Linked DNA regions of Homo sapiens: all the other regions are linked to region 3. Evidence: fine-mapped expression QTL. A gene starts in region 3. Each other region holds a variant in brackets. All regions are shown on one strand. Distances are from middle to middle. Region 1 overlaps SNPH (syntaphilin). Region 2 overlaps SNPH (syntaphilin). Region 3 holds the start of SNPH (syntaphilin).

Region 1 (9,712 bases), 24 kb before region 3:
GTCACATCCCAGGTGTGTGGCAGAGCCAATATCGAAACCAGGTCAACATCAGATGCTGAGGGGCTGGATCTCAAACCCCAGAGTCTCTGGCCCGGGGACCACCCCCTTCCCATGTCAGGGCCTCCCCGGAGCCTGGTCATCCCAGCCAGCGGCGGGGCTGCCTCCTGAGTGGACAAAGGCACTACTCAGATGGCCTGTTTCCTGGCGGGGACATAGAACACAGCCTGTTCCCCTGGAGGGTCTGGACACAGCCAGCATTGTCTGCCTGGAGGTGTCGGGTGCTGGGCTGCAGGACCTGCCGACACCACACCTGTCACCTGAGCTTCTTGCCCCAGCTTGGCAATGCTTCCCACTCATTATGCCCCAGTCACCCAGGCAGGGCCTCCTGGAACTGTAGGGCTGGCCCCTAGAGCAGGAACCATGGAGGAGGGGCGATTTGGGGGTAAGAGGACATCAGTGCTCCTCCATGCTTGTGAGGATGGCCATAAATGGCTCACTGCCTCCTGGGCACAGGAGGATCTTGACCAGGAACAGCTTAGGGTGCAGAGGGGCACATGGGCAAGGGCTCCAAGGATCACCTGCCATTGCCTGAATCCTTCAGTGGTAAGGTGGCCATGCTGAGTGCTCTCGTCTGCCTTGGCCCATTACTTGAAGCAGCAATCCTTCAAGGCCGGCTTTGTTACTGCATTTGGGCCCAAGGTCACACAGCTGCAGGTGTGACATGCTCTGGCTTCTGGCCCAGGTCGGCCTGGCTTCACCAACAACTTTCCCACCATCATCCCTGCCCTTCTGGCTTTTGGGAGGATGCAAAAAGGAGGCTGAGCCTTCAGGAGGACTTTCCAGCAGAGGCAGGACTCAGATCTGAGGATGGGCTCTTCCAAGCCAGTGTGAGTGAGTGTTCTAAGGAGCCAGGAAAGTCCAGGCAGAGTGCTAGGCCCAGTCCTGGGAGGCAGGCAAAATGCCTGGTTTGTCTTGGAGCTGCGTGTGGCCTTGCTACAATGAGGGCCTTGTCCCAGCTGTCCCTGCCACTATCTTGCTTGGCTACCCCACACCTGCCTCCTCTTGAGTTCCCTCTTCCTTCCTCCCTGGCCTGGGGGAGGGAAGGGGGTGGCACTTGTACCTGCGTATAGCTAACAGTCTCCTGGGCACCCAGAGCCAGGTATTCATTAGGGACAAAGGTGGAAGACGCATTTCCCCTGCTGGGATGGGACCTTGCAGGCAGGGTCCCTCATGGGAGGGCAGAAGCCACCCAGGCCCAAAGGGAGCCACCTCTCAGGATCCTACTCAGAAAACTCAGTGTGCATCCTGTGCTCTCTCAGGTCCTCCCTCCCTTCTAGGCCCTAGCAAGGAGGCAGGTTGCCATGGTGTTTGTCACCATGCCACCTGCTTAGCCTGGAGTCCCGCAGGCCTCTCCCCAGGTGGCCAGAGGCTGCCACTTGGAAAGGAAGGTAGAAAGAAAACCCTTAACTGTGGGAAGCTGGGCTGATAGTCTCTCATCACTTTAACCCCAGAGTAAACCCAGCCCCTGCCCTCACTGAACTTCCCTCCACTTCCCCATCTTGTCCACACCATAGCAACCCTGCTGCATCCACTCCTTTGACTGCTCCCTCAAATGCTCAACACTTCCTAACCCCCCCGACAATGGGGGTCCAGGGAGCATGAGACTAATGACTGCAGAAGTCAATATGAACTGATCTGGGCTCAAATGCCAGCTCTGGCACCCTTCAGCTGCATGCCTTGGGCAAGTCACCCACTTCTCTGAGCCTCACTGCCCATATCTGTAATAACTGGGGCTCTAATGAATGCACCTCATATGGTTACTGTGAGAATAACATAAAATAATGTGAGTATGGGGCTTAGGTCAGTGCCTATCACACAATAAACACTAAAACATGGGGGCAGCCAGTATTTTGGAAGTAACATGAAGTGAGCTTCAAAACAGAAACACATTCAAGCCATAATAGTGTCTTCAGGAGGATCCAGGAACGCTTCTCTACACAAGAAATTTGCACTGGGTCTTGAGGGATGAATAAGAGTTCACCAGGTGGCAGCAGAAAATGGGAGGGAAGGAGAAGTCTGGACACAGGCAGTGAGTGACAGCTGGCTGCTCAGAAACTAGGGAGCCTGTTGAGGGCAGAAGTACAGTGGGAGTGAGGCTGCAGAAGGAGGGGGGCAGGCCACACAGAGCCACTTAAGCCAGGATCTTGTCCTGTGGGCAACAGGAAGCCATGCAAGTGCTTTATAGGAAAGGGGCACAATCATATTTGCATTTTAGAAAGTTCCTGATAAGGAGCCTGTGTGGAGAGGGAGGGATACCAGATACCAGTTAGGAGGTTACCAACCAGGGGAGAAATTAGGAGGGCCTGGGCCAGGGTCATGGCAGGAACAATGGAGAAAAGGGCCTGGACCCTGTTCAAAATTCCTTGGAAGTCCCAGATTAGGTAAAAATCAGAGCAAAGCTCTTGATGTGGGTGCTTAAGGCCCTCTCATCTACAACCTTTCCAACTGGCTCTCTGATACATCCAGGAGACCTCGGCTAGTCACTCCCAAATCTGCATCTCTACATGGGCTGTTTGTCCCATCTGCAGCATCTTCCCTGCCTGTCCTCAGGCATACATTGCACTCTTTCTTTAGGTCCCACCCACAGCCTTTCCACCAGTGACTTCTCCTATCACTTACTGTCTTGACCACTTAGGATGCTATGCCTTAGACTAAAACTCAGGGAACACCATCCCCTGGGAAACTTCATAAAAACAAACACAATCAACACACAACTGTTGGTAATACAATGGTTTAAACAAGCACATTGAATAGACCAAAGAGTCAGATTAGATGGTCTCTAAGGTGCTCTGGATCTAACATTCTCTAATTCTAGAGCTGTCAATGAAATTATGGGCTTCTAATTGATGCTTCTTTCTCCTTCATTACTAGGACTTTCGGGTCTCAGTTTCCACATATGTAAAATTAGGAAGCTCCATTCTTCAAAGAGACATGATAGCATTTTCCCCAATCAACAGTCATGGGGGAAAAACCAGGTGCTTGGGTTAATCTAATATTCCAGCTAAGCAAAAGTCCCTGTATGTACTATAATTTATCTTCTTTCAAAGAATTAG[C/T]CATTGATACAAGAAGAAAGCTATCCTAAAATCCGAGGGAACAGAACAATCTGTGTCTGATGACTCAAACCACTGACAGCTGTGGAAAGCAGAGCATTGCAATCAACAGAGCAGAACTTGGGAGGGATCCTCTCTTTGCCAAGGTAACACTAGAACGCAGAACATTCCACCCATCAGACAGCAGAGTGCCTGGTGCTCCTAGAATGCTAATGCAGAGAGGTGGGAATAGAAGACAGGCCTGGGAGTGTTCCAGCAGCCACACTCTAGATCTCAGAAGATTAGCACTACCAGGGCTATTCACAGCTGAGGAGTTCAGTAAACCCTGCACTGGCTATGGCCTCATCAGCCACTATGTGCCTCTGCTCCTCCTTTGTCAACAAAACCTAGGATCTTCCTTCCAGGACTTGCTGGCATTTCTCCAGCTTGCTTCCTGTTTCCCACACAAGCCACCCTCAAAGCTGGGACCACACATGAGGCGCCATCCGACTTCTTCTCACTGTTGTGGCAACCCCAACACAGCGGCAAGGCAGACCCACAACTTGGCCAAATGCTGTGAGAAGCTTCCCCAGGCAACCAGCATAGGTTGAGGGCTGAGGCAGCTGCTACACAGGATGTGTCTCCAGTGATTAGACTCAGATTCCAGAGCTGAAGGGCATCAAGCCTAGGTCTTCAAACCACCCAAGAGGACTTGCCTCTGCACCTACTGGGAGGGGTGGCTTGGGCCTCCTCCCCCATTTCACCTGAAGAGGCTCCTCTCGTATGTGTTTTACATATGGAAGGTGTGAAGTAAGACTACTTTTTAAAAAGGATTTTTCAGGTTAAAAATCTATGGAATACTTATTTTCCACAATGAGATATTGTTTCACATTCACTAGGATGGCTAGCATAAAAAAGATGGACAATAACAAGCGTTGTCAAGGATGTGGAGAAGTTGGAACTCTCATGTATTGCTGGTGGGGATGTAAAATGACGCTGCTGCTATGGAAAACAGTTTGGTGGTTCCTCGAAAAGTTAAACATAGAATTGCCATAAGAACCAGCAATTCCACTGCTAGGTATATACCCCAAAGAATGGAAAATAGATGCTCAAACAAAAACTTGTATAAGAAGTGTACTTCACAGTAGCACTATTCTTAATAGCTAAGAGGTGGAAATAACCCAAATGTCCACCAATAGAAGAATGGATAAACAAAATGTGATGCGTCTATGCAATGGAATATTTAGCTATAAAAGGAATGAAGTATTACTGATCCATGCTACAACACAGATGAACCTTGACAACATTATGCTAAATGAAAGAAGCCAGATACGAAAGGCCGCATATTGCATGATTCCATTTATATGAAATATCCAGCACAGGCAAATGCACACAGACAGAAAACACACTGGAAGGGAAGAAGGAACAGGGAATGACTGGTAATGGGAATGGAGTTTCTTTTTTGGGAAGATAAAAAACGTTTTAGAAGTAGCTAGTGGTGATGGTTATATAATTTTGTGAGTATCCTAAAATCCCTGAATTGTACATTTTAAAAACTTAATTTTTTTTTTTTTGAGACAGAGTCTCACTGTGTCGCCCAGGCTAGAGTGCAGTGGCACGATCTCAGCTCACTGCAACCTCCGCCTCCCGGGTTCAAGTGATTCTCATGACTCACCCTATCGAGTAGCTGGGATTACAGGCACGCACAACCACACCTGGCTAATTTTTGTATATTTTAGTAGAGATGGGGTTTCTCCATATTGGCCAGGTTGGTCTTGAACCCCTGGCCTCAAGCAATCCACCCACCTTGGCCTCCCTGCTCCCAAAGTGCTGGGATTACAGGTGTGAGCCACTGCATCTGGCTATTAAAAGGATAAATTTTATGGAATGTAAATTATATCTCAATAAAAAACAAATTTTTAAAAATACATGTGATATATATTTAATTTTTTTTTAGAGCCAGGGTCTTACTCTGTCACCTAGGCTTGGAGTGCAGTGACAAAATCATAGCTCACTGCAGCCTCAAACTCCTGAGCTCATGCGATCCTTCTGCCTCAGCCTTTCCAGTAGCCACCTCACCTGGCTAATCTATTTTTTACTTTTTTTAAAGGTGGGGTCTCACTATGTTGCTCTTGGTGGTCTCAATCTCCTGGCCTCAAGCCATCCACCAGCGTCACCTCCTGAGTTGCTGGGATTACAGGTGTGAGCCACCATGCCCCTGACTCCATTGTGTGTGTGTGTGTGTGTGTGTGTGTGTGTGTGTGTGTGTGTGTATTTAAATGAACCGTTGCATTAATAAAAAGACAGGCATGGTCCAGAAAGGGGTAGAGACTCTTCCAGAATGGCTCAGCAAGTTGCAGCAGAAGGGGAGCAAGAGCCAGTGCCCCCCCTCTACCTGACTTCAGGTAGCTGGGCCCAGGATGCTTCCCTAGACTTTGGGTCAGCCTGGAGGAGACTGGTAGCTGAGGCTGCCCCTAAAGCTCTTGCATATTCACAACTTCGTTGAATCCTCACACAAATTCCCCATAGAGGGAGGCCAGGTAGAGACTAGTCCATCTGATCTATGGGAAACCTGAAGCCTCAGAGGTTACAAGAGTCACCAAGGGCTGGACCCTGGATTTCCAGGTCATGGGCACCTGCATTTCTACTGCATCATGAAGGTCTCATAATACAGTAGACCTGGGACACTTATCATTCTGCTGCATAAAAGAAAAAACCTACTTTTCCATGAGACTCTAAGATACCACAATGGAGATGAGCAGGTATATACCTGCATTTTGGGCTGGTCATACTTCCATAAAAGCAGGGCATCACAGACATAAGAGGTAAGCATACTACAGAGAGTCGTTTAAAAAGAAATTCTTGGCCAGACACGGTGGCTCACACCTGTAATCCCAGCACTTTGGGAGGCCGAGGTGGGCGGATCACCTGAGGTCAGGATTTCAAGACCAGCCTGGCCAACATGGCAAAAACCTGTCTCTATTAAAAATAGAAAAATTAGCTGGACGAGGTGGTGGGTGCCTGTAATCTCAGTTACTCGGGATGCTGAGACAGGAGAATATCTTGAGCCTGGGAGGCAGAGGTTGTAGTCAGCCGAGATCACGACATTGCACTCCAGCCTGGGCGACAGAGTGGAGACTCCATCTCAAAAAAAAAAAGAAAAAAAGAAAAAGAAATTCCTCATGTGCCTTCTCCCTAACTAGTGACTTTCCCTGTTCCTCTAAGAATCAGCCTCGCAGGCAAAGGAGAAGCCCTTTCCATGAGGAGCACTGCTCTTTCCTCTTCCAACAACTGCTGCGTCCCACCCAGCAGCCCAGCTGCTGTGCAAGCCCACCACTGAGAGACCCTCAGCTCCTCTGAGCCATATCACATCGTCCATCTTGGTGACCTTGGGTCTTTGACCTCTGTTCGTCTCAGCTGTCTCATGCATTCACTCAGGAAGGCGCCACCTTCCTGGCCCTGCTGTCTCTTTGGGATCCAACCAAGGTAATGAATGGAGGGATGGGGGTAGTTCTTGGGAAATTAGAGGACTGAACATTTCTTGCTATCACTATTACCTGTCGAAGGAGATCTCTCTTTTTCCCTTCTTCAGAAATAATTCTTGCTTTATCACCTCAGCGGACATCAGCAGGCCCAGGCATGAGTGACTCTGAAATGACTGGCAAACTCTGCTAGGCCAAGTGACCTGGGCTGGCTTTCCAGGGCAATGTCTGGCAGGCCTCCCGTCTGGGTAGGGAGTAGTAGGGGGAACACTGGTTCCCATGCTTCCACCATCCCAGCTGCTCCACGGCTGCCCCTCTGCAGACACCCATGGAGAAATGTGAGGAACGGAGGGGCAGTGGTGCCAGCCCCAGCTTGGTGGCTGCCTGGCTAGTGGCTCCTGGCAGATGGAGGCCCTTCAGCAACCTTGGCCACAGCATATGCTTCCCTGGGCTTCCTGACTGATAGAGCTGTCAAGCCTCAGTCCGGCTTCTCTCCCTTCCCCCTTCTCCCAAGCTTCCAACTCTAAAGCATCACAGGATGAGGAAAATGGTGAGACTTCCATCCCTAAAAATTCTCATTTTTTCCAGATTTCTGCCTTGATTCTTTGGATCCTGGATGTAAGATTAGGTAAATGCCTAATCCCCTGGCATTTACCCCAGGTACCAACAGGGACTAACACACTCTCAGAATCAGAATGGAAAGGATCTGGAGTAGACCTCATCACAACCTATCATTCTATAGAGAAAGAAACTGAAACCCAGAAAAAGCATGTTAGTTGCCTGAGGTTACCCAGAAAGTCAGGGACAGAGCCTGGGCTTGGGGCTAGACTCCTGAATCTATCAGTGAAGCTTCTGTACCACAACCCTTGCCCTCACCAGGGCAAAAATTAAGAAAAAAAAAAGAACAAAGGGAACCTTTTCAAGTAAAGAAATCTTGGAAGGAAGGCCTACGGGTATGACAGGAGAAGTCCTGACCATTTTAAGGCAGCTCATAAATGACATGCAATAAAATATGCATTGAAACAGAGGCCCAGGGAAGAAGGGAATATCCATGCTGACCACAAATACATGGTGGCAATAATGACATTGAGATTCAATTCCAAGCTTCCTGGCCACTGATGCCAAAAGGGAAAGTATGCTCAGTCTTATTGTTCTCATGGTTATGGGAGGGCAGGAAGAAAATTGGTTCTTTGGGAGAAATAAAGATCTCCCTAAAAGGAATGTTAAAAGGAACACTTTTGCATGGGGTTGGCTGCAGGGCAAGATGATGGTCCACTGGGAGTCGGCAAAGTGGGTCCCAAGGAAAGATGGTGCCCTCAGAGCTCCCCAAAGTTGCCCTGTGTGTGCTGTGCTTTGCTCATGTCAGACTGAAGAACACATGGAACACACAGACCAAAGGACTAAAGGGATGTGGAGATGTCATCTGCTCTGCCTGCGACGACAGCCCCTTTCCACAGACAAAGCCCCCACCCAGCCTGAGATCAGAGAGCTTCCTCGTTCCTGGTAATACAAAACAAGAAACCACATAAAACCACTCACGCTGTCTCTTGCACTTGCATTCTCTCCCTGTCACTTGTGCACACACACTCTCTCTTGCTCTCCTGGCATTTCATGACAATCGAGTCCCAACTGCCACATTTTCTAGATAGAAAAGTGAAGACTTGCCAAAGGCCACAATGGAGCCATAGAAGCAGGGCCAGCTCATTCTAATCCCACCAACAGTTCCAGGCATGCCGCTCCTGTTGGAAGCCAAGGTTCATCTATCTTCCTGCAGCTCCCAGGGGCTCAGCAGGGAGACATGGAGCCCAGCGCACCCAACTGTGCCTGTTTTAGCCCAGGAGCCTATCTCACAGCAGCTCCTTCATCTCTCCTCCCAGCTCCCTTCTCCCTCTCCAGCTGCAGCTGCCCTGCTGTCCTCAGCAGCTGATCCCTGTCCACCTGATTCCCCGTGGTACTTCCCATGCCATGCTGAATTCTTTCACCTTCAATAAGATCCAGGGCCTCAACAATGCCCAGTGTGGCTCACACTTGCTGGAAGAGGGTGGGTGATTAATAAATGCCTCTCCTAATAAGTTTTCCTTCTCTGGAGAAGCTGCCCTACCTCTTAATTTAGCCAAAGTGAAGCATTCTAAAATGTTTTAAAAGGGAGATTCTACAAACTACTATGTCCTATTTTAAAGGCCCTTTATCTTTTTTTTTTTTTTTTTTTTTTTTAAGATGGAGTCTCGCTCTGTCGCTCAGGCTAGAGTGCAGTGGCGCAATCTCGGCTCACTGCAACCTCCGCCTCCAGGGTTCAAGCAATTCTCCTGCCTCAGCCAGTAGCTGGGACTACAGGTGCCTGCCACCACCCCTGGCTAATTTTTGTATTTTTAGTAGAGACGGGGTTTCACCATATTGGCCAGGATGGTCTCAAACTCCTGACCTTGTGATCCACCTGCCTTGGCCTCCCAAAGTGCTGGGATTACAGGCATGAGCCACTGCACCCGGCCACCCTTTATCTATCTCAGAACGAGTTTTCCCCTTTTGCTGACAGGCAGACTAACCCGACAGAAAGAAACCACGGCTTGAACATCAAATGTAACTGAATTTTAGATCCAATATGACTGGATTTGGAACTCTGAATTCCAAACTCCACCACCCACCATCTTTATGACAGTGGGAATGCCACTTTACTCCTCTAAGCCTCATTCTCCTTATCTCTCAAATGGGGCTAATTACAGTTGTGCATGAGTATAATCACAATGAGCAATAACACGTGTGAAATGCCTAGCAAGGACCTGGCATAGGGACAGCACTCCGTAAATAGCAGTAATTATTTATTCGCCTGAATATATTCTTATTCTCAATGTTATTCATGTATATTACATCTTTCTCCCTGTCCAAAATCTTAATCTGAAATACTATACTCGTTTGTATCTGAGAGGTTCCTGACTACAGATTCATTTTATGCTTTCTTAAGTCTACTTGCAAAAAAAGAAAAGGAAAGAAAAACCCTAAACCGGTCATTGTCTACCAAACAACAGGATTTCAGGACACCGCCACTTTGGTCTAACAGAGTATCTCAAAATTAACACATCCAAAATATGAATTTCTGATTTTGCCTTAAAAATCTGTTTTTCTGCAGCTTCCCTCATTTCAGTT
Region 2 (10,461 bases), 37 kb before region 3:
ACAGTCCCAGGGCCTGTCCCAGGGCTGAGTGGGGAGCTGCTCCCTCCACTGACAAGAAGAAAAGCCCATCGAAGGCCCCAGGAGAGCCCCCGAAAGAGAGGACCCTCAACACTGTGGGCCAGGGCCCTCGTGACCCACACCGGTGGTCTCAGGCCAGAACAGGAGTAGACGGCCGCTGCTGGCTACACTCACCTCCTCCACAGGCCTCAGGCCCAACCACAGCCCAGTCCTCCACAGGTGGCTTCTCTAGCAGCAGAGACAGAGTAGACTGTGGCCCCAGCCCTGTCACATCCACCAAAACACAAGACACAATAGGAAGGCCACAGACGCAAGACACAGACAGGAGCAGAGGGGCCTGAAGCTTGACTAAATTCCAGTGGTGAAAAATAGAGAGATTTTATGTTGTCAAATATAGTTCATACATTTCTTTTCTCGGCAAAGCTTTGACTATGTCTGAGGAGACTACGCAGCTCCGTGAGTGCGCGGCACAGGAGGCTGGGTCCGCAGCCAGTCCCGGCTTGGCTTTGGATTGGTTTTGTCCACTGCCCCCTCCGTGGCATGGCCACAGTGTCCTGCGGGGGCAGCCCCAGCCAGGCCTCAGGCATCTGGGTTTGGTTTGGCTGGGCTGGGGCTTATTCCACAAAGGTTGGCTGGTCTGAGGCCCTGACCAAGGCGGGGGGAGCTTTGGAGGCACAAAGCGTGTGGCAGAGGGGGCTCCTGCCCCGAGGGCTGGGCCAGCCGCCCCCTCCCAGTGCATGCAGGTGCCCCGCCTCACGTGGAGGGCACCGAGCAGAAGGGCAGAGCCCATGAGTTAGGCAATGGCTGTTGGAGCATTGGGGTGAGGGCAAGCAACCTTGGCAGATAACCAGAGTGGCCCTTAGGCCAGAGGGGCGAGTAAGACACAGGGTCCCTCCAACCCCCAGAGGTGGGGCCTAGCCTCTGAAGAGTGGGTGGGACAACCAGATGGGTGTAACCCCTGTGGGGGAAAAGGAGTGAGTTTACTTGGTAAAATAATAATGGTAATGTCAGCAGCGTGGCTGGGGGACTCAGTATGGTCCCGGGAAAAGAGTTGGGGCAGTGAACTTCCCAGGCCGACTGGCCTTGGGCTGGGAGCAGGGAGGCTGCAGGGCGCCTACCTGCTCTGCCACGCCCCTGCCTAGGAAACCTATCCCAGGACACCCTGCTTTGGCCTGGATGAACATCGTGGCTTCAGTACGCGCCATCCTGCGATTCATCCTGCCAGAATACCCCACCCTCCTCCAGAGGCAGAGAGGTTTAAGGTTTAGGAACCCTCATCTCAGACAGCAAGCAGCCACCTCACTGGAGACCCTTGGATGGCTGAGAACCAACCCCAAAGTGAACATAGTGCAAAGCAGAAGTTGGGCCCGAGGGCCCCAGAGAAACTCGGGGCAAGTTTCTGGGGGCAGTCATGGCCTCTGGCTTTTTCAGTAAGCTGTGGGTTCCTGAGTCCAGCCCTGCCTCCCAGCCTGCAGATGAGATGGCCTCACCTTGGAAGGCTGGGGGAGCCCCCTTGGGTTTCTGCCCCTGCCTCCTCTTCTTGTGCTGGTGGATTCTCCAGCTGGGAGCTGGGACTCAGGCAGGCCCTCCTACCCCAGCACTGAGCTTGCCGGGCTTAGCTACCTCACAGGAATAATGACTGACACACCCAGAAGTGCCAAGAGGAAAGGGATGACGGGAAAGCCTGGGATGAACAGACAGACACAGAACCCACACTGCCCTCCGCCACCTTGCGCCCAGCCCCGTCTCTCCTCCAGCCTGTGGCCTTGACTGAGCTCCTGAGTCCCAAGGTGGGCAGCAGTCTGGGGAGGCTGGAATGCCGGCCGGCCCAGTGGTTCTGGCCTCTGCTCTGAGCCCTGGGTCAGTGATCTGCACTTCAGGCCATGGCTGCCTCCATTTGAGGAGAGAGCACTGGCCCAGGAGCCTGGGCTGCGGGCAAGGTGGCTTGGAAGAGACGGCATGGAGTGCGCAGGGCACTGGACAGGATGGTGCAGGGCAGGGGCCTATGGGCAACTCAAGCCCGGCTTCCCCACATGAAGACAGCCAGAGACTTCCTGAGCAGGGCTGGCCCTGTCTGAAGAGCCAAGGGGACAGAGGGGCCGGGTTGGCCCTCGCTCCCTCCCCTCCCTGCAATTTGTCCAGCTGGTGTACCTCCTGCCTTGGGTCCCCCTTCCCTGCTCTCCATCGAAGCTTTGGGATGCCTTTCTCCAACCCCTGCTCCTTCCACGGGACTGTTTTAACATCTTGAAAAAAAGAAACAGTTCCACACCCAAAACTAAATAAATAAGATGATGCCCATGGGAGAAGGGAGGGGGGAACGGCATCCCTACAATCAGTGGTCAGGCCGCAGGCGCCGCTGCCAGAATGGGCCCCCTCAGAGCTGGGAGCCGCCGCCCGCTGGGCTGGGACTCGGCTGGCTCAGCGAGCGGCAGCTGATCCTGCGGATGGAGTGCAAGGCCACAGTGCAGCAGCCCCGCAGCAGGGAGCTGATGTTGTAGATGGGCTGGCCCTGGCGCCGCTGGGAGCGGCAAAGCCAGGCCACCGTGGGCACGGCCGGCACCACCACAGCCAGCAGATCCACGATGTAGTGGCGGCTCCAGTAGCTCTTGGGCTCCTTCTCAGCCACGGCAGCCTCCTCCTCCTCTTCCATGGGGCACACCACGCTCACCGACTGGCCAGGGTTGGGGTTGGCACCAGGCCGCTGTGGGGTGGGTCCACGGGTGATGGGCTCTGGGGCCTCTAGCTCATCACCCACTGTCACCACCACTGCTGAGTTGGGGTCTCTGGGCCCTGAAGGGTGGGCATCCAGCTCTGGGCACCTGTCCCCTGACTCAGGGTCTGTCCCACAGACCTGGGCCTGGGTCACTTTCTCCAGGATGGTGTCAAGGTCAGGCTGGTACTGCACGAAGTCTGTCTGGATGGCACGCTCCTGCATGCAGCTGGCCTGCACACCAGCCTCCATGCCACACAGCAGCTTCTCATAGGTGTTGCTGGCAGGGAAGCGGGGGCCCAGGCCGAAGGAGCTGTGCAGCGAGGTCTCCTCGGTGCCACAGTCCACCCCCGACGACAGCAGGCTGCTGGCTTCCAGCGCGTCCGTCCGGCTCAGTGTGTCATCGGCTGCTGCAAAGCCACTGTCTGCCCCATCCTCAGCAGAGCCGCTGGAGGGATCACCCGGCTGGCGGTCACCACAGACAGCCGGGTCACTCAGCTTGGTGTAGGTGGAGCTGCGGGTGAGGGAGCGGGCAGGGGACCCACCGGCTGACTCCCCAGTGCCATCCTCCTTGGCCATGCCATTCTGGGCCACCTCCATGCTGTGCAGCAGCGTCTCCAGCTTCTTGTTCTGGATGTTGATGTCCACGAAGTACTTCTGCAGCCCCTTGTCCTTGTCAATCAGGTTGTTCTTGACAGTGTCGATGACCTGCTTGAGCTGCTTGATCTCCTTTCGGGCCTCCTTCAGGGCCAGCTGGGCCTCCACGCGGTGGCACTCCTCCTCAATCCAGTCCTCCTGCATGCGTGACAGCTGCGTCTTCAGGTCATCAATCTCTGTGTCCCTGCGAGCCGAGGAGACACACACACGCTCACTGCCTGCCTGCCTGGTCTGTCACCGCCAAGGAGAGGCAGGGAGAGGACACTGTTGCCAAGGATGAAGGGCCCTGTGCTGCTGTGGCTCAGAACCCAAAACAGAAGGACAAACTCAATGCCTTCTTATTATAGTGGGGAGTGAGAGTGGCTGGGGAGAGGGGCTGAGGGGTGAAGACAGGAGAAGCCTCTGCCTGGAGAGAGAAGAAAGGTTGGGAGGAGACACCACTCGCATTCCCTCCCCCACCCCACCACCCCCAGAATGCCGACAACTCTCAACATTCAAATCCATCATCTAGAGAAGAGACTAGACAACAAAGATGCTCATAAGTTTTATAGCTACTGCTATAAAAACCTAATAAAATCTTAATGTGAAACAACAAAAACTAGGCAGGAAATCTCTGCTCTATAGAAAGTGATGTAGCCTCCTACTACCTACTAAAGCAGGTTGCAGAAAGTTTCAGTGGAGGAATATTTGGCCAGAGACCCCAGGGGAGAGAAATGACAGCTTTCAATGTTGGGGGAGGCTGATGATTTTACATCATCCCTCATGCAGAGCGATGAGAAGTGGTGGGTGGAACGGGAGAGTGATAAGAACAGGGTGGCTCTCATCTATCCATGCTAGAAGCTTCTTTGTATCTTTGTATCTCCTTGTATCTTGTATCTTAAAGAGGAAAAGCTGAAAAGATCAACGAGAAAGGCATAGAGTTACTCCTGAGCGACGGGGGCAAGCACCAGGTGAACAAGATAGTCGGCAGACTCTTGTCCAGAAATGCTCAGGCTTTTCAAATTCCCGAGTCACAGATGAATCCAGGGGTGCAAGGGGAGGGAGGTAAGTTAGAAAAATATGCCATCAGGTCTAGAGGTAAAACCAGAGTGAGACAGAATGGCGACTGATTAACACCAGTGAGGAAGAAGGAAAATCATCCAGGAGACGTCAAACCCTGTCCTGGGCATTTTCGCTCACTTCCTAGTGGCAGCCCACATGAGCCCCCTCAGCCTAAACCCTACATTCCCATCCGTAAAATCTACAAATGCCGTGCCTGTCACTCTGGGGTTCATCAGCCCAGCAGAATGACCGTCCCAGATCAAGCACCATATACTTTTCAAAGCCAGATCAGAATTTTCCTTCAGGAAATGGGCCCAGGAATCTCATTCCACAATACGCTGGAGGGACTGGGGGCTGAGGGGATGCAGTGGCCATAAAGGTCAGCAATGGTGTCACCTAGAAGGGGCCCATCCACCCATCAGGACACAGCTGGAGCTGCTTAGAGTGCCAATAACAGACAAGGCAACAGGTACTGAGGGGCAGGAGATACTTGGCCTTCACCCTTCCTGCCTCCAGGTGGGGGGCCCACTCTAGGTAACCCTTTTGGCCTCTCACCCTGCTCCTCACTCACACCTCACCCTGGGAGAAAGAGTGAGTTTGAAAGAAGGAACTGGGCATGATCTGCTCAGCCAGTCTCTGCCTCTCTCTCCTTGGGGCCCAGCCAAACCCCAGGGAGCCATGGCTTCGAGCCCTGTCCACGCCTCAGTGGGCATCACATCTGAAGTGCGTCTTGAAGGGTAAGTCTGCCCAGGGAGCAAGATAGAAGGCAGGGCATCTCAAGTAGTGGGGACACAGATACGAAAGCACAGAGGTGCAAAAGCCATGGTGTCTTTGAGGAACAGAAGGTGGGCCACTGCAGGAAGCACAGGCATGAAACTCCATATGGAGAGAGTGTGGGGAGAGTGACAGTATTTCATGTAAAGACCTGCAATGGGTTCCTGTGGGAGTAACAGGCAGACAGTGACCAGGGAGTCAAGGTGTTAGCACACCTACACCAGGGCATCCTGCCCAAACCACACAGGGCAGATGGTCTGCTCTAAGCCATGGGGCTGGCCCTAGAAATGAAGCTGGGAGATGGGCCATCTGCTCCCTGAGGCATTAGTGCAAAAGGCCACGCAGATCCTGGGCATCATTGGGAAGATGAGGGAAAATAAAAATAGAAATCCTCCCTCTGCCGACAATGAAGCTCGCTGAATGCTACCCGTAACCGCCTGTAGTTTAAAACCACAACAAATCCAAACCGGATTGGCTGCTTGGCAGAGCTGTGGTCAAGAACGATGTGGTCATGCATACAGCGTGATCCCATTTATATGAAATGTCCAGAATAGACAAATCCATAGAGACAGAAAAATCAGTGGTTGCCAGGGACTATGGTGGTTGGAGAGAAACTGGCGGTGATTGCTAATGGGAATGGGGTTTATTTTGAGGTGATAGAAATATTGATGAAATTAGAAATTGGCGGTGATTGCTAATGGGAATGGGGTTTATTTTGAGGTGATAGAAATATTGATGAAATTAGAAATTGGCGGTGATTGCTAATGGGAATGGGGTTTATTTTGAGGTGATAGAAATATTGATGAAATTAGAAATTGGCGGTGATTGCTAATGGGAATGGGGTTTATTTTGAGGTGATAGAAATATTGATGAAATTAGAAACTGGCGGTGATTGCTAATGGGAATGGGGTTTATTTTGAGGTGATAGAAATATTGATGAAATTAGAAATTGGCGGTGATTGCTAATGGGAATGGGGTTTATTTTGAGGTGATAGAAATATTGATGAAATTAGAAACTGGCGGTGATTGCTAATGGGAATGGGGTTTATTTTGAGGTGATAGAAATATTGATGAAATTAGAAACTGGCGGTGATTGCTAATGGGAATGGGGTTTATTTTGAGGTGATAGAAATATTGATGAAATTAGAAATTGGCGGTGATTGCTAATGGGAATGGGGTTTATTTTGAGGTGATAGAAATATTGATGAAATTAGAAATTGGCGGTGATTGCTAATGGGAATGGGGTTTATTTTGAGGTGATAGAAATATTGATGAAATTAGAAATTGGCGGTGATTGCTAATGGGAATGGGGTTTATTTTGAGGTGATAGAAATATTGATGAAATTAGAAATTGGCGGTGATTGCTAATGGGAATGGGGTTTATTTTGAGGTGATAGAAATATTGATGAAATTAGAAATTGGCGGTGATTGCTAATGGGAATGGGGTTTATTTTGAGGTGATAGAAATATTGATGAAATTAGAAATTGGCGGTGATTGCTAATGGGAATGGGGTTTATTTTGAGGTGATAGAAATATTGATGAAATTAGAAATTGGCGGTGATTGCTAATGGGAATGGGGTTTATTTTGAGGTGATAGAAATATTTATGAAATTAGATAGTGGTAATGGTTGCAAAATTCTGTGACTAAACTAACAATCATCTAATTGTACACTTTTGATAGGTGAATTATATGGTATGTAAGTTACATTGCAATAAAGCTGCTGTATTAAAAAAAAAAAAGAAAGAAAAGAAAAAAGGAGCGATCATCGTGCCTGCTCTGAGCTCCAGCCCCACACAGCACCTTGGCCAGCTCACAATAGGCTGCATGTTTGCATAGACACAGTCCCGAGAAGGATAGTTAAGACAATGGGAGATCGACGCCCTGAAGTGTAGATCACAAAGATGAAGCCACTGGGCTTGGAGGGTAGAAGCTGGGAGGGTTGGGATTAAGCACTTGAGAATGAGCTCAGACGGCCTGCGGGG[G/A]CTCCTGGGAGACACCTGGGCTGGGGAGGAGCTCAGCAAAAGGCTTCTCATCATCATCCTCCACAGCAGGAAGTAGATGGCTTCTGGGGCCTGAAGTCGAGGTTGGCCACAAGCCCTCTGGTGACTCACTCAGGAGGAAGCGAGGAAGGATAAAGAGTTGTTTCTCCCCCAAAAGAGGCAAGTAAGTCAGAAAGAAGCCCTGTGCTCCAACTCCTGGAAGATGGGAGCCAGAGGAAAAGAAGCAGCCAAAGGAGCTGCCAGGCTGAAGCTGGGAAAGGACAGCACAGGCAGGAGGCCCCACAGGACAGGCCCTCATGGGAAACTGCTCCCGCCTGGCCCCCAACAGCCTCGTGGAGCAGTCAAGGTGAGTAGCTGCTGGGGATGAGGGTCTGCAAGTGGGCTCAAATGAGGCTTTGCTGGGAAGGAGAGAGCAGACGGATGCTGGGAGACCCCCAGCCACTCCTCCCTCCAAGAGGCACCCCAGAGCCCTGGTTTCCCTGAGTGTGGAGCTGGTGGGGTACCCCCAGGGCTGCTCGTGGCCACCCGCTCACCGGTCCTGGAGCCGGTCCTGTGTGTCCTTCAGCCGGGCTTTCAGGTGCCGGATGCACACCTCCTTCTGCTGCAGGGGGGTCAGGTACTGCTCCGGGGTCGGGGGCTTGATGCCATGGTTGTCACTGCACAGCGTGTATTTCATGGAGCGCCTGCAAGGGGACGCCCATCATCAGGGAGGGAGGAAGAGGTCAGGCAAGGCACAGGTGCTTTACCTCTGGGGAGCAAGGGGACACCAGCCTCACCATCCCTGGCCACCAGATGCTCCAAGCCAGGCCTCCCACACAAGGCAGGAGAACCCCCAGCCTTCTGGAAGGTGGGTTTTAGTAGAGTTCCTCTAAGTGAAGACCATCATGTCAGGAAGCGGGCTTCAGGGCTCCTCTAGTTAGGGCTGGGTGGGGAGATATATCCCAGAGCATATGTGTAAACCTGGAACCAGGCCAAGCACTTGACCAACGCCATCAATCCTTATAGCAGCCCTGAAGTAGGGACTGTCTTCATCTTTTAGAGGGGCCGCTGGCCTCAGAGAGGTTAGCTCTTGCCCCGAGCCCCTCAGACAATCCCGGTAGTGTGCCCCAGAACCCAGGTACCTCGTCTTCCAACCTGGAGAATGAGTTTGAAGGCTGGAAACTGAGGTGTAAGTGGCAGATGCTGGGTCTGCATGGCAGACAAGGACTCACCCCCACACAGCAGGATACATCTCCCAGGTGGAGGCAGAAGCTCTCCTCTCTAGAGCTGAGACCCCTCACAGCCTGGGGACAGGGAGGGCAGACACGCGCAGGCACAGCTGTCTCCATATACGCCCTGGCACTCTCACTCCTCACCCCCACTGCGTACACGTGGGTGAGCACTACATGCACGCACACTTCCTGGGATGTCAATTCCCAGTCCATTCACACCTGCATGCCCACATACATGGAGACACACTTGTGCCTCGCAGGTACTCACACATACTAGGGCACCAGCCCAGGCACATGTTCACACTTTCACCTCCGGGGGCACATGGGAGCACACACGTGAACACCTGCCGGCTCTGGGCAGGGACCTGTCCACTGCAGTACTCTGGGGTGGCAGCAGGCTGGAAGTGCACTGCTCCCAGCACAGGGCGGCACTGACATGGTGCCCTACCAGGGCAAAGGAGAAGGAATTTCCACCCAGAGGGCAGTCAGGTGCCAGTGGAGGAGGGAGGGCCAGGCTTTCACGGGGAAGGAGAATGCCCCAATTCCACAACAGACTATGGCCCAGCCAGCTCTATTCTCAGTGTCCTGGCTGCTGGTTGTTTTGCTCAAACAGAAACCTTGGATCTTGGCTTAAAACCTGGGCATGTATCTCGCGACTAGAGACTCAGGCCTTGTTGCCATCCAACTCTGCTCCTTGAGGGGAGAGTGACTGGCAGGTCTAGGGAGGGGCAATGTCCCTTTATGAGCCTGGAAAAGGCAGGCCCTGGTGAGGCCCATTTGCTGAAGCAGCCGAGCTGGAGGCAATTTTAAAAGTTCCATGGAAGCTGTATGGTGTTTACCGAGGAAAAAGTACTTGTAAGTCGTAAACTGTCAAAGAGAAAGTGGTGATAGAAGTGGAATGAGAAGTGGTTTTCTTCTATGTACTCACGTCATGGCCCCTAGGTCAACTCAAGCCAAGTCACGCAGGTCTCCTCTCTGCTTGGCAAGGGGCGGAGGAGTCACCCCTTGGCAAGGGGTGGTAGGAGTGGGGGACCCAAGGTTAGCTAAACTAGTAAGGATTGAGGATTAGAGAGGAAGTAACTATTTTACATTCTTTTCATTTTGCTTTCATGAATATTTTCCCCGATATAAAATTTAACACGTGTACATTTTTAGTCACTAGCTCTTTGTAAAAAAAAAAATATGTATACACACACACACACACACACACACACACACACACACACACAAATTAGAAAAAAAATACGCTGTGACGCATGTTTCTCAGCTGTTCCTGCCTTGGAAAGCCTGGCTATTTGCAGAGGGGACCTAACTGTGGCCCCACTGCTCACCCAGGGGCAGCAACCCTTGTTGTGGGGAAGAAGACCCTTTGCTGGGAGCAATTCTCAGCCCTGGGGTTGGGATCACCTCCATGGGCTGCAGTTACGAGGTGTGTTACAAAATCTGTTACTAATAGAAAAGATTAAAGTTGCCAATTATATAGTTTTCAAAATGTAAATTAATGCTTTACTCCTATGTCCCCCAGTCTCTGGGGTGGTGTTACAGCCAGGATGCTGGGGCATGAGTCCTGCACATGGGTGTTACCCATCATGTGTGTCACGATAGAAATCTAACAGCTGCTGTTTCAGTGGCTCTGGACATCGCTTCACACAAATGACATCCTCTCCACTGAGTCCTCCCAGGAGGTGCTCCAGCCATGGGAGCCACAGGCTGGGCATCTCCTGGCCTTAAGTCAGATCAAAGCTCTAACAACAGGAGGTATCAGTTATTGGCCAACTAGGATGCACAGGCGGTGTGTAGATATCAAGTCACCGAAGCTTCCGAGTTATTAGCTCCACTTTAAAGAAAGGAAATGGAGGCTCAAGACAGGAAGAGACCAAATCCAGAGCCTATGCTCGTTCCCTACACGCCCCAACCTCCCACTTGTATTTCAATGCTGGGGAAGCAGGACAAGGCCTACCATGACAGCTCTTCCTTCCTGGTCTTCAAGGACCTACAGCTCCCCTACACCTGCTTCTCCAACATGATCCTGCTTTGTGAGTCCGAGT
Region 3 (10,461 bases):
CGGTGCTGGCTCTTCCTGCTGTGCCAGGCTGCTTTCCAGCCACTCCCTTTTGGTTGGCTCAGCCCCTCAATTCAGAGGACAGTGCTGAGTATGCGACAAACACGTCATAAATATCTGTCCATTAATGCAAAGCAGCCTGGGGTGCACAGGCCTCAGCCTCTCCATGGCCCTTGGCTTGAGCTTCACATCACCTGCATCGAGACTTCCCACAGCACCAGCTGCCCATCAAATGGAGAACTGGCACCTGGGGCTTCTGGTGGCCTAGATGTAGAAAGACCCCATGTGGCTTAGAAATGCAATCCCCGTTAGGCCAGAGTTATGAACCAAGCCCTGCTGAGTAATCTTAGGCAAATGACTTCACCTCTCAGGTGTTAGGCGTTCCTCCAGACAGGTGGGATGCCTAGAATAGACATGAAGAAGAATTCCCCAAGCCTATCAGATGATTATAGGCACAAGACAGTCTTTGTCAGAGGAATTTCAAAATCCTGCTTCTAGAAGGCTTTAAGGACAGGAAAGGTTCTGGTCTACCTGGGACAAACAGATAGTTCCATCAAAATTGTGTTACAGCGTGAGCTTGGATAGTCCCCTAGACTCCATGTCCACCTTCTAGATTGATGAGGACAGGAGCCAACAAGTCTTTAGGGCTGTTTGGAAACATTCTAAATCGAGTAGAACCCTTTACTATTATTATTAAATTATTATTCACAAGCTCAATGCCAAAAATAGAGATGACAATGGCATCATCTCTCTAAAGCCTTCCTGACCCACTCAGTAGGAAAGATCATTCCCCTCTCTCTGTCCCCCCACCCCATCACACACATATCAGTATGTCTTATAGCTTCCAGATGTTTTCTCATATCTACACGTTTAGGTGTCTGTCTCCCTCTGTTAGATATGAGCTTCTTGAAACTAGGACTCACAATTTACTCTTTCCTGCATGCTATGCACTTAGCCCAGGGCCTAGCTAATAAATAAGGACAAATGCTGGTCAATGTTTAGCAAGTTAAGGAATCCCCTCCACCTCCAATACTGGAACAAGGGTGCATGTAGGCCTTTCGGAGCCAGTAGATGCATGCAGATCATTTGAGGGATGGGAACTCTTGGAGGGAAACTGGCTGACCCAAGGTTATTCAGTTATTGAGAGGGCTCAGACTAAAAGCAACCCTTTGGACACCCAGTCCAGTGCACTTCCAGCTAAACATTTTCTAGGTTCTATGATACACTGGTTGTACGACTCTGGGTAAGACCCTTCGCCTCTCTGCCCTGGCTTTCTCACTTATAAAAATGGGTAAATTTATATATAGTGCCTACATAATGGGATGATCTGAGCAGTAAATTATTGAACCTGTGTAAAACAGAGCACAACACATAAGAAGACTAAAAAAGTGTGTCTGTCCTGACTGTCATTCAGGCCTAACCATTATCCTCGGTAAAGGGGCATCCACCAAACATCAGCAAAGCAGGGCTCACGGTGAAAGGAAAACTCTCCATTCCTGGTTCACACAGTTTTCAACCAGGAAGTACCCTGCACCAATCACCTGGGAGAAATGCCTGATCTCTCACCGTAAATTGTTCACAGCTTCTTCTTCTCCAAACCCCTGTTCCCACCTGCAAGTGCACACACAGCTCACAGCATCAGCAAGGTATGCATGAAGAGGCAGCGAAACCTTTGGAAGGGGACGATGCAGACAGACCTGGTGTCGGATAGCAGTTCTAGCCGCGCAACCCTCAGCAAGTCACTTAGTCTCTCCAAGCCTCAGTCTCCCCATCTTTGAAATGGTCATAATTTTCTTTAAGGATTACCTGAGACAGTTAATGGTCTGGGACTTCATAAATGACGTTGAGGGTAATCATAGTTGTCTGATTTTTATTTAACAAAATCCACTCGACAGAATGTCAGAAGCAGAAGGGGTCTTAGAAATCACTTAGTCCAGTCCCATCATTATATAGATGGGCACACAGAGGCCTTGAGGGGAGGCCTGACTGGCCCAAGGTCACATAATAAGGCAGTGGTTCAATGGGACATGGGACCTGGGTCTCCTGACTTTCTACTGCATATCCATGTTGTCCCACTTGATTCTAATTACCTGCTCTCCTCCCTCAAACACAGAAAATGGCTAGAATCATTCCCTTCCCAATCCTCCTCCCTTCACAGTCATCTCACACCAGCTGGCACCATCTGGATCCCTTTTTGCCAACATCACCACCCTCCCAGGCACATCTGGCCCCTTTTGGTCTAGTCAGGAGCCCTAGAGGAGTAGGCGAAGCATCTGTTAATCACCAACAATAGCAATAATAACAGTAGCTGTAATAGCAATAATAATGACAACCAACAACCTGGACGATGTCCTACACTAAAAAGGGCTTTCACCTACATAATCAACACATTCCTACAGTTTCTCCCTAACCTAGTTGGCTTAGGGACATAATTTCCTCAAGTTTGTTTCATTCAACACTTACGGAGCACCTACTTTGGGCCTACTCATGGGCCAGAGGCTGGAGATAGAGAAAGGAAAATGATAGGGCCTCTGCCAAATAGGAATTTAGGGTGGGGGTGGGGGGACATGACAACTTCTTTTGGCCCAAATGGTGCAGCAGCAAAATTCCCCACCCAACCCTATGGAGAACCTCCTTTATCATGCTGTCAAAAGGCAGGAGGTATCTGGAATAAAGAGGAGCGAGAAAGGCTTGAGTGCTAGGCTGAAAATGACAGCAGGAAGGAAGATAAAGAATCGAAAATACAAGCACCAAAAACTTGACTGCCTGGCCTCAGGGTGACTCTAGGGAGACACTCCAGGGAGGGCAAGAGAGCCACAGTGGGATTCATGTGAGATCCGGAAGACCTGATCCCTGCCCTGCTGCCAGCACACAAGAATCTGCTGCTTCTGTTCCCTCAGAGACTCCGCCCTTGGATGCCAGGATTTTCCAAACCCAATGCTGGGCTACAGTCCTCCTTGGGACCATCATTTGCTAGAATGATGTCACAACCTTTGCAGTGGAAATGTTGCTGCCTGCCTAGGCCCTCAGCCTGGTGACCCAATACACTTCAGCATTCATTACCCCTGGCAGGGACACCATCTGCAGGGGTGTGGAAGAGACAGGCAGGGGATGGGGAGGAGAACAGGACTAAAAGCAGTCACCTCTTCCTCTCTTCCCCCAGCCTATCTCCCAAGTCCTGAGTTCCTGAGAACCTACTATGTGCCAGGCACAGGCACTATTTTAGGTGCTTCCACATACATCTCATTTAATTTTCACATCAGCCCTCTGCGGGCTGTACCCCTAGATTTACAGATGGAGAAACTGAGGCTGGGGGAAGGGAAGTCACTTGGCAGCTCAGGGATGTCAACATAGGACTGTCTGGCACCTCCAGCTCCTTGAGGCCCACAAGGTCAATGTTTCACTTAAGAAGTCAGAGTTGAAAGAGATCAACTGAGGAAACCCCAATTATTTCATGAAACTAAATTTAAATTGCCTTAGCAGAGGGGTCCCCCTGACATGTAAAAGCTGCTTGAGTGATATACTAAAATTATACACATCATTTAATCCAATTCCTGCATCTAACAGATGAGCAGACAGACACCCACGCCTAGAGAATTTTAAAATGGCTACTTGTGGCCAACTAGCAAGTTAAGGGCCTAGAACCCCAATCTCTGGCACTTTCCTTACACGACTCTGCCTGCAGAGATCACCTTTTTCTAAGAAGCTCCTCCAGCCCATCCCGACACCACCAGATGGGCAGAGAAGGCAGAGGAAACGGGCAGCATGTGACCGGCCTCTCTTTCAGTCTGCAGGGTTGGGGAAGGGAATATGGGGCTCCCCAGGCTAGTAGGTGTTGCAAACAGCCCAGATCCCGGCTGGGGAGTGGAAGGCTTCACATCCCAGGGAAGCTCCGGGGAGACGGAGGCTCAGATCGTCCACTCTAGGACTTATGGGCATTTTTTCCCCAGATCTACTGCAGGGCCCTGATGCTTCTCAGAGGGAAAGATGGGATGGAAGCAGTCATTGGCACTTGACCTTGGGGTGGGGGTGGGGTCTCATCCTTCTCCCACCCCCAGGTACCCCTGCTCCTCCTCCAAGAAGGAAAAGAGAAGCTTAAATGTTTGCCAAATGCCAGAAGGGGAAGACAAATAAAATTGGGGGGTGGGTTCCCTAAAAGCCTCCTAATCACCCACTTTGGGCATCTTCTCTGCTGCAATCAGCACCCTCTAATTCTTACATTTCAGGGAGGGGGAGGGAGGGAAGCGCTTAAAGGGATGTAGGGGAATGAAGGGAGGGTAAGAATGAGTCACGATTAACCCCTCTTAGGCTGGTGCCCTCCAAGGGATTCTACCGCAGCGAGCGGTTGCAAGCGGCCCCCACCTGCCGCGGTGCAGCGCAGGGCCAGCTCCCCGCTCCGCCGCGGCCTCCTCACCTGAGTCCACTGGCCCTCCGCAGCCCCGCCGGCTCGCACCACTCCGGCCCGGCTTGGCGCAGCGCCTCTGCAGTCGCTGCTGCAGCCGCCTGGCCCTGATCAGCGACCTGCGGGGTTAGGAAAAAGAGATAGACCGGGGCGGGTGAGCGCGGGCGGGGAACACCCAGGCAGCTGAGCCCCCGGCCGCTGACAGCTGGGCCGCTGCAGCCAGAAGGCTTGGAGGGCAGGCTGCCTGCCGGGTGCTCCGTCCCCTCCTCCTCGCGGCCCGCGGCCCCCACCCCACCCCCTGGCACTCGGCACTCTGGACTGCGGCGGGTGCAGCTGGGCGGTGGGCCCGGAGATCCCCGGGGTCCTTGTCATCACCTGCGGAGGCTTCCATGGCTTCAGCTGCCCTGCAGGGGCCGCCGAATTGCTCTCCCGAGCCCCTGCAGGAGGCGGCTAGCTGGGTGCTCGCCGGGGCTGGGGCTGCCGGGAGGGAGGGGCGGGGAGGGTGAGGTGGATGGAGGGGACCAGCCAGTCGGCGGCTCGCCGGCAGCTGCGTAAGCGGCCCGTCTTTACTTTCCTTCTTAAAGAGATAGTTAGTATCTTGCTCTAGAGGGCCTGGGAACAGAGACAACGAGCACACGGGGAGCGGCGGCCTCTCCCACCTACACACCAGCCGGTATTTTGAGCTGGGCGATCGATTGGGCGTGGTGGAAAGCGTCTTGGTCGGCTGTGTGACCCTGTGCAAGTCCCTTCACCTCTCTGGGCCTCAGCTTTTTCTTCTCTAACATGGGGTGATGATACCAGTCTCACTCCCTGGCACATAGTTGGCTCTAGTGAAATAGTAATTTTTATCTAAAAGCCTTTAGGAACATTTTTCATTGCCCAAACCAAGTCTGAGTACCAGGGGTATTTAATGTGAATGACAAGCACTTGGGCTACTAACAATGATAGCAGGAATCTTAAGTGTCTGAAAATGGAAATGTTTTCCTCTTAAGTAGTAAAAAGGTGAATCATTGGAAAGATCTCGGAGAGATAAACAATCACAACTTAAAATGTTAATTGTGGCTCTTTTCCCTCTGTCTTCCATCTGTCACAGGGAAAACAAGAAGACCAAAAAGTCCAAAAAACTGGATTTTCTGCCTAGCCCTTCCATTTCTAGCCATACAACTTTAGATAAGTTAACTCACTTTCTGGGCTTGGTTTCTTATCTGCTTCATGTGTGGGAAGTAGGTGGAGTGGGAATGGGCTCCTTCTTTCTGAACCAGGCCTGTCTGATCTGTCATTACTCTGCTCTAAACCATCCAGTGGTTTTCTGTATCGCTCTCCGCCACATGCCCTCATCTTACTCCAGCTCTCTGACTTCATCTTGCGTGGCTCTCCCCATCACTCACTTTTCTCCCATCAAGCTGTCCTTCTTGCTGAGGCCTCACTGCTGGGCCTTTGCATTTGCTGTCCCCTTTGCCTAGAACACACCAGAGAGCCACATGGTTCAATCCTTCCTTTCCTCCAGGTCTCTGCTCAAATGTTACTGTCTCAGAGAGGGCTTCCTTAACCATTCTACATAAAATACTAACTCCCTCCTCTCCACCTCCTTTGCCCCTAGTTTTGCTACACTTAATTACCAGCTGACATAGTGTATATTTACTATGTGTCATTTATCACTCCCACTAGAATGTACACTTCATGAGGGAAGGAACTTTGTTTTTTTCCCTTGCTGTATTTCCAGTGCCCAGAGCAGTGCCTAACACATAGTAGGAGCTCAATAAATATTGACTAAGTGAATGAGAAAGCAAGCACACATTGTGCCAGGCCCCAGTCTTCTATGGGAACACTAGGCCAGATGCCATCCTGGAAGTCCTTTTGTCTTAAGTCTCTTAAGGCTCTTAAGTCCTTAAGTCTGTTTACTCTCGCCGGTGCTGAACTTGGTACCCTCTACTCTCTGCCCCAAGCTGACTTTTCCAAGAGAAGAATTTGTAAAGTGACTTCACTGATTTACATCATGACTCTGCAGTACTGGCCTGGTGAGAAACAGTTAATATTGATAATGTACATGAAAAAATAATTATTTTAAGTTTACTGTTGCTTTTCACAGTCAAATCTTTTCCTGTATCTCTGAGCTGCAATAAATCCATTACTTTTTTTGCAACAAATGCTAATAAATTTTGGAGAGGACATTGATTCTATTTTCTCCTGTATTCCGTTAAACCATATCCTATCAGATAGCCATTATTATATTATGTTTTCTAGAAAAACATGGCAGAGCAATTTAGCAGGAATAGGAAACTAGTTGAAAAAGCCATGTGAAATGTTGAGGTCTTCTGTCCAAAACACCTAATGCTATATTAGCAAGTTAATTGATAAAATGTTTTATCTGCTCTAATGCTCACTGAAATTATATAAGTGACATTTTTACACTTAAAAGTGAAACCAAAGGAAGCCATGTAATTATTACATGTTTAGAAGGAGAACATTTCTGAGATTGTCATTAAAATATTTTTTTGTCTGTTCCCATGCTGTTTTGTTTATTAATAGAGATGGGGCTTTACTATGTCGCCCAGGCTGGTCTCCAACTCCTGGGCTTAAGCAATCCTCAGCCTCCCAAAGTGCTGGGATTACAGGCTTGAGCCACCATGCCTGGCTGTCCCATCCTCATGTGTGTATGTGTGTGGGGTTTTGTGTGGGGGTTTTTTTGGGTTTTTTTTTTTTTTTGCTTGGTACTTAGAAGACTACATTTCCCAGAAATCTCCACAAGGAACTTCCCCAAAGCAAGACAGTGACTTCACTCACATTACTCCCATCTGGAATGGTGTTAGCTAGTAAAGTATTCTCTTTATCATCAGGAAGCAGATGATTGAGAAGAGAACTGGTGTTTAGTTATAATGTAAATTGCAACAAATGAGGATTATAAGTATAAAACAAAATTATTCCTAATAAATTAGTAATTTTGTTTTGTTTTGGACTAGTTGAAAATACATTAAAAATTTTTTTAGTTTCAAAAACAATTGTATTCCAATTCTGGCTAAGCATACTCTCCCACAGAATGCAGCAATAAAACCTGAACAAAATGCATGTAGCAGCTATTTGAGGATTCTGAAGACAAAATACTAGCAGGCACACTGGGGAAGAAGCCAGAATTTGATATACCCTACCACTGAACTAGTGGTGAATTTATCATCTTTATTTCTTCCTATAACTCCTGTCCTGGTCTCAAGGCAGATCAAAATCTGGAATTGGGGCTCAATAAAGAGAAAGCTCCCAAAGAATCTCCCTAGTTTTGACTTGAAGATCAGGAAAAGGGACTTCTGATGCGCAGAGTATGTGGGAGATATCATTGTTCTTTTCCTTTCAAATCTTTTCTCCATTGTCTCATGACCCAGGCCCTAGGCCATCCTGCAGTGGTGTCTGTGACAGCAGGAACCCACAGGTGCCTAAAACTCTGAGGGAGGAGAAACTTCTTCAATAAAAGTAGCTGTAGTCCTGAGGGAGGGTGAGCCCCTGTTGTTGTTTTTTTGTCACTGTCCTCCTACCTCCTGGTCCCAGATGCAAGTTCAACTGTGGAAAGTAGGCAGCAAAGTGGAACAGAGTAAATAAAGCTCCAAACTCCAGCATTCTGGTGAACCCCAGAGAGAATAAATCAAATGATGATAATGATAATAATAATAGTTTTCAGTTACTGCTGAAAATTAAAAACAAAACAAGATCTTTAAAGCAGTCAGAGAAAAATGATGCATTAATAATACAGGAATAGGCTGGATGCAGTGGCTCACACTTGTAATCCCTGCACTTTGGGAGGCCAAGAGGCAGATTGCTTGAGCCCAGGAGTTTGAGACCAGCTTGGGCAACACGGCGAGACCCCACCTCTATAAAAAATACAAAAATCAGCTGTGTGTAGTGGCGTTTGCCTGTAGTCCCAGCTACTCGGGAGACTGAGGTGGGAGGATTGCTGGAGCCCGGGAGGTCGAGGTTGCAGTGAGCTATGACTGACTGTACCACTGCACTGTAGCCTGGGTGACAGAGCAAGATCCTGTGTCAAAAAAAAAAAAAAAATACAGGAATAATAATTTAAATAACTGTTGATTTCTTATCAGAAACCATGGAGGGCAGAAGAAAACAGAACAATTTTTTTTAATTGCTTAAAGAAAAGAGTTGTCAACCAGGATTTTGTACCCAGCAAAAATATCCTTCAGAAATGAAAGTGAAATAAACACATTCTCCAATTAAGGAAAATGAAGATAATCCATTGCCAGCACACTTGCTCTAAAAGAACTACTGAATTAAGTTCTTCAGACAAAAGGGACATTACATTAGAAAGAAATTTGGAACATCAAGAAGGAAGGAGAACAAAAATGGTAAATATTTGAGTAAATGTAATAGGCTATTCTTCTCTTGATCTTTTAAAACATGTTTGACAGTGGAAAGCAACAATTGTTGATGGGGGTTCAATGTGTGTAGATAAGACTAGTACAATATAAAGGAGGAGTATGTATATTCCTTTACAATATAAAGGGACCTATATGGTGTAAGATTTTTACACTCCTCTTGAAGTGGTAAAATATCAATTCTAAGTAGAGCATGAAAAGTTAAGTATGTATTTTGTAACCCCTAGAATAGCTATTTTTAAAATCTATGACAAAAAATATAGTAAAAAAAAAAAAAAAAAAACACCATAGGCCGGGTGCACTGGCTCATGCCTGTAATCCTGGCACTTTGGGAGGTAGAGGTGGGTGGATCACTTGAGGCCAGGAGTTCAAGATGAGCCTGTCCAACAGGTCTCTATTAAAAATATAAAACTTGGTCTGTACTAAAAATACAAAAATTAGCTGAGTGGGGTGGTTGTATACCTGTAATCTCAGCTACTCAGGAGGCTGAGGCATGGGAATTGCTTGAATCCAGGAGGGAGAGGTTGCAGTGAGCTAAGACTGCACCTCTGTACTCCAGCCTGGGCAACAGAGTGAGACTCTGTCAAAAAAAAAAAAAAAGAAGAAGAAGAAATAAAAATGGAATTCCAAATATTCCAAAAGAAGACAAGAAAGGGGAAAACAGAGGAATAAAAAATAAAGGGAACAAACAGTAAAAAAAATAAAATAAAATCCAAAAATCCTAAATAAATAAAATCTGAAATCCAAAAATGTCAATAATTACATTAAATATAAGTGATCTAAACACTTCAATTAAAACAGAGGTTATCCGAATGGATAAAAAAATGACTTTATTTGATGCAGTCTATAAGAAATTCACTTTAACTATAATGAATGATATAGGTAGGCTAAAAGTAAAAGATAAAAAAAGATATACCATACAAATACTTATCAAAGGAAAGCTGGAATAACTATATTAATATTAGAAAAAGTAGACTACAGAGCAAAAAATATTACCAGGAATAAAGAGAATTATTATAAAATAATAAAAGGGTCATTTCACCAAGAAGATGTAATAATTATAAATGTATATAACCTAATAAAAGAACTTCAAAATATATAAAGCAAAAACTGACAGAATGGAAAAGAGAAATAAACAGATCCACAATTATAGCTGGAGACACAAACACTTTTTCTCAGTAATTGATAGAACTAGTAGACAAAATAAACAAGGATGTAGAAGAACTAAACAACACTATGAACTAACTAGGTCCAACTGACATTTATAGAACACTCCACCTAACAAATGCAGAACAGAATTGATCCTTGAACAACACAGCTTTGAACTGTGTGTGTCCATTTCCATGTGGATTTTCTTCTGACTCTGCCATCTCCGAGACAGCAACACTAACTCCTCTTCCTCCTTCTCCTCCTCAGCCTACTCAGTGTGAAGACCATGAAGATGAAGACCTTTATGTTGATCCACTTCCACTTAATGAATAGAAAATATATTTATCTTCCTTATGATTTTCTTAATAACATTTTCTTTTCTCTAGCTTGCTTTATTGTAAGAATATAGTATATAATACATATACAACACATGTGCTAATTGACTGTTTATGTTATAGGTAAGACTTCTGGTCAACAGTAGGCTATTAGTAGTTAAGTTTTTGGGGAGTCAAAATGTATACACAAATTTTCAACTTA

The links. PIP is the estimated chance that this variant, and not a neighbour inherited with it, causes the effect. A credible set is the group of variants that fine-mapping cannot tell apart.
Region 1: its variant is the best candidate, but not a certain one, in a credible set for the expression of SNPH in skeletal muscle (GTEx, PIP 0.59).
Region 2: its variant is the best candidate, but not a certain one, in a credible set for the expression of SNPH in whole blood (GTEx, PIP 0.77).

Annotation. Positions count from the first base shown.
Region 1 is chr20:1,285,163-1,294,874 of GRCh38, reverse strand. All of the region lies in intron 2 of SNPH (syntaphilin), which reads right to left. Among named protein-coding and RNA genes, the nearest start is that of SNPH, 24 kb to the right of the region's middle. The variant C/T (reference allele first, on the strand shown) is at 3,114.
Region 2 is chr20:1,297,986-1,308,446 of GRCh38, reverse strand. SNPH (syntaphilin) reads right to left here. Exons shown (of 7, transcript NM_001318234.2): 6 at 7,736-7,885; 7 at 1-3,569. The coding sequence ends at 2,393. Among named protein-coding and RNA genes, the nearest start is that of SDCBP2-AS1, 22 kb to the left of the region's middle. The variant G/A (reference allele first, on the strand shown) is at 7,185.
Region 3 is chr20:1,260,711-1,271,171 of GRCh38, reverse strand. It overlaps SNPH (syntaphilin), which reads right to left and starts at 4,878. Exons shown (of 7, transcript NM_001318234.2): 1 at 4,775-4,878; 2 at 4,412-4,518. RefSeq lists silencers at 4,383-4,462, 4,563-4,642 and an enhancer at 5,043-5,192.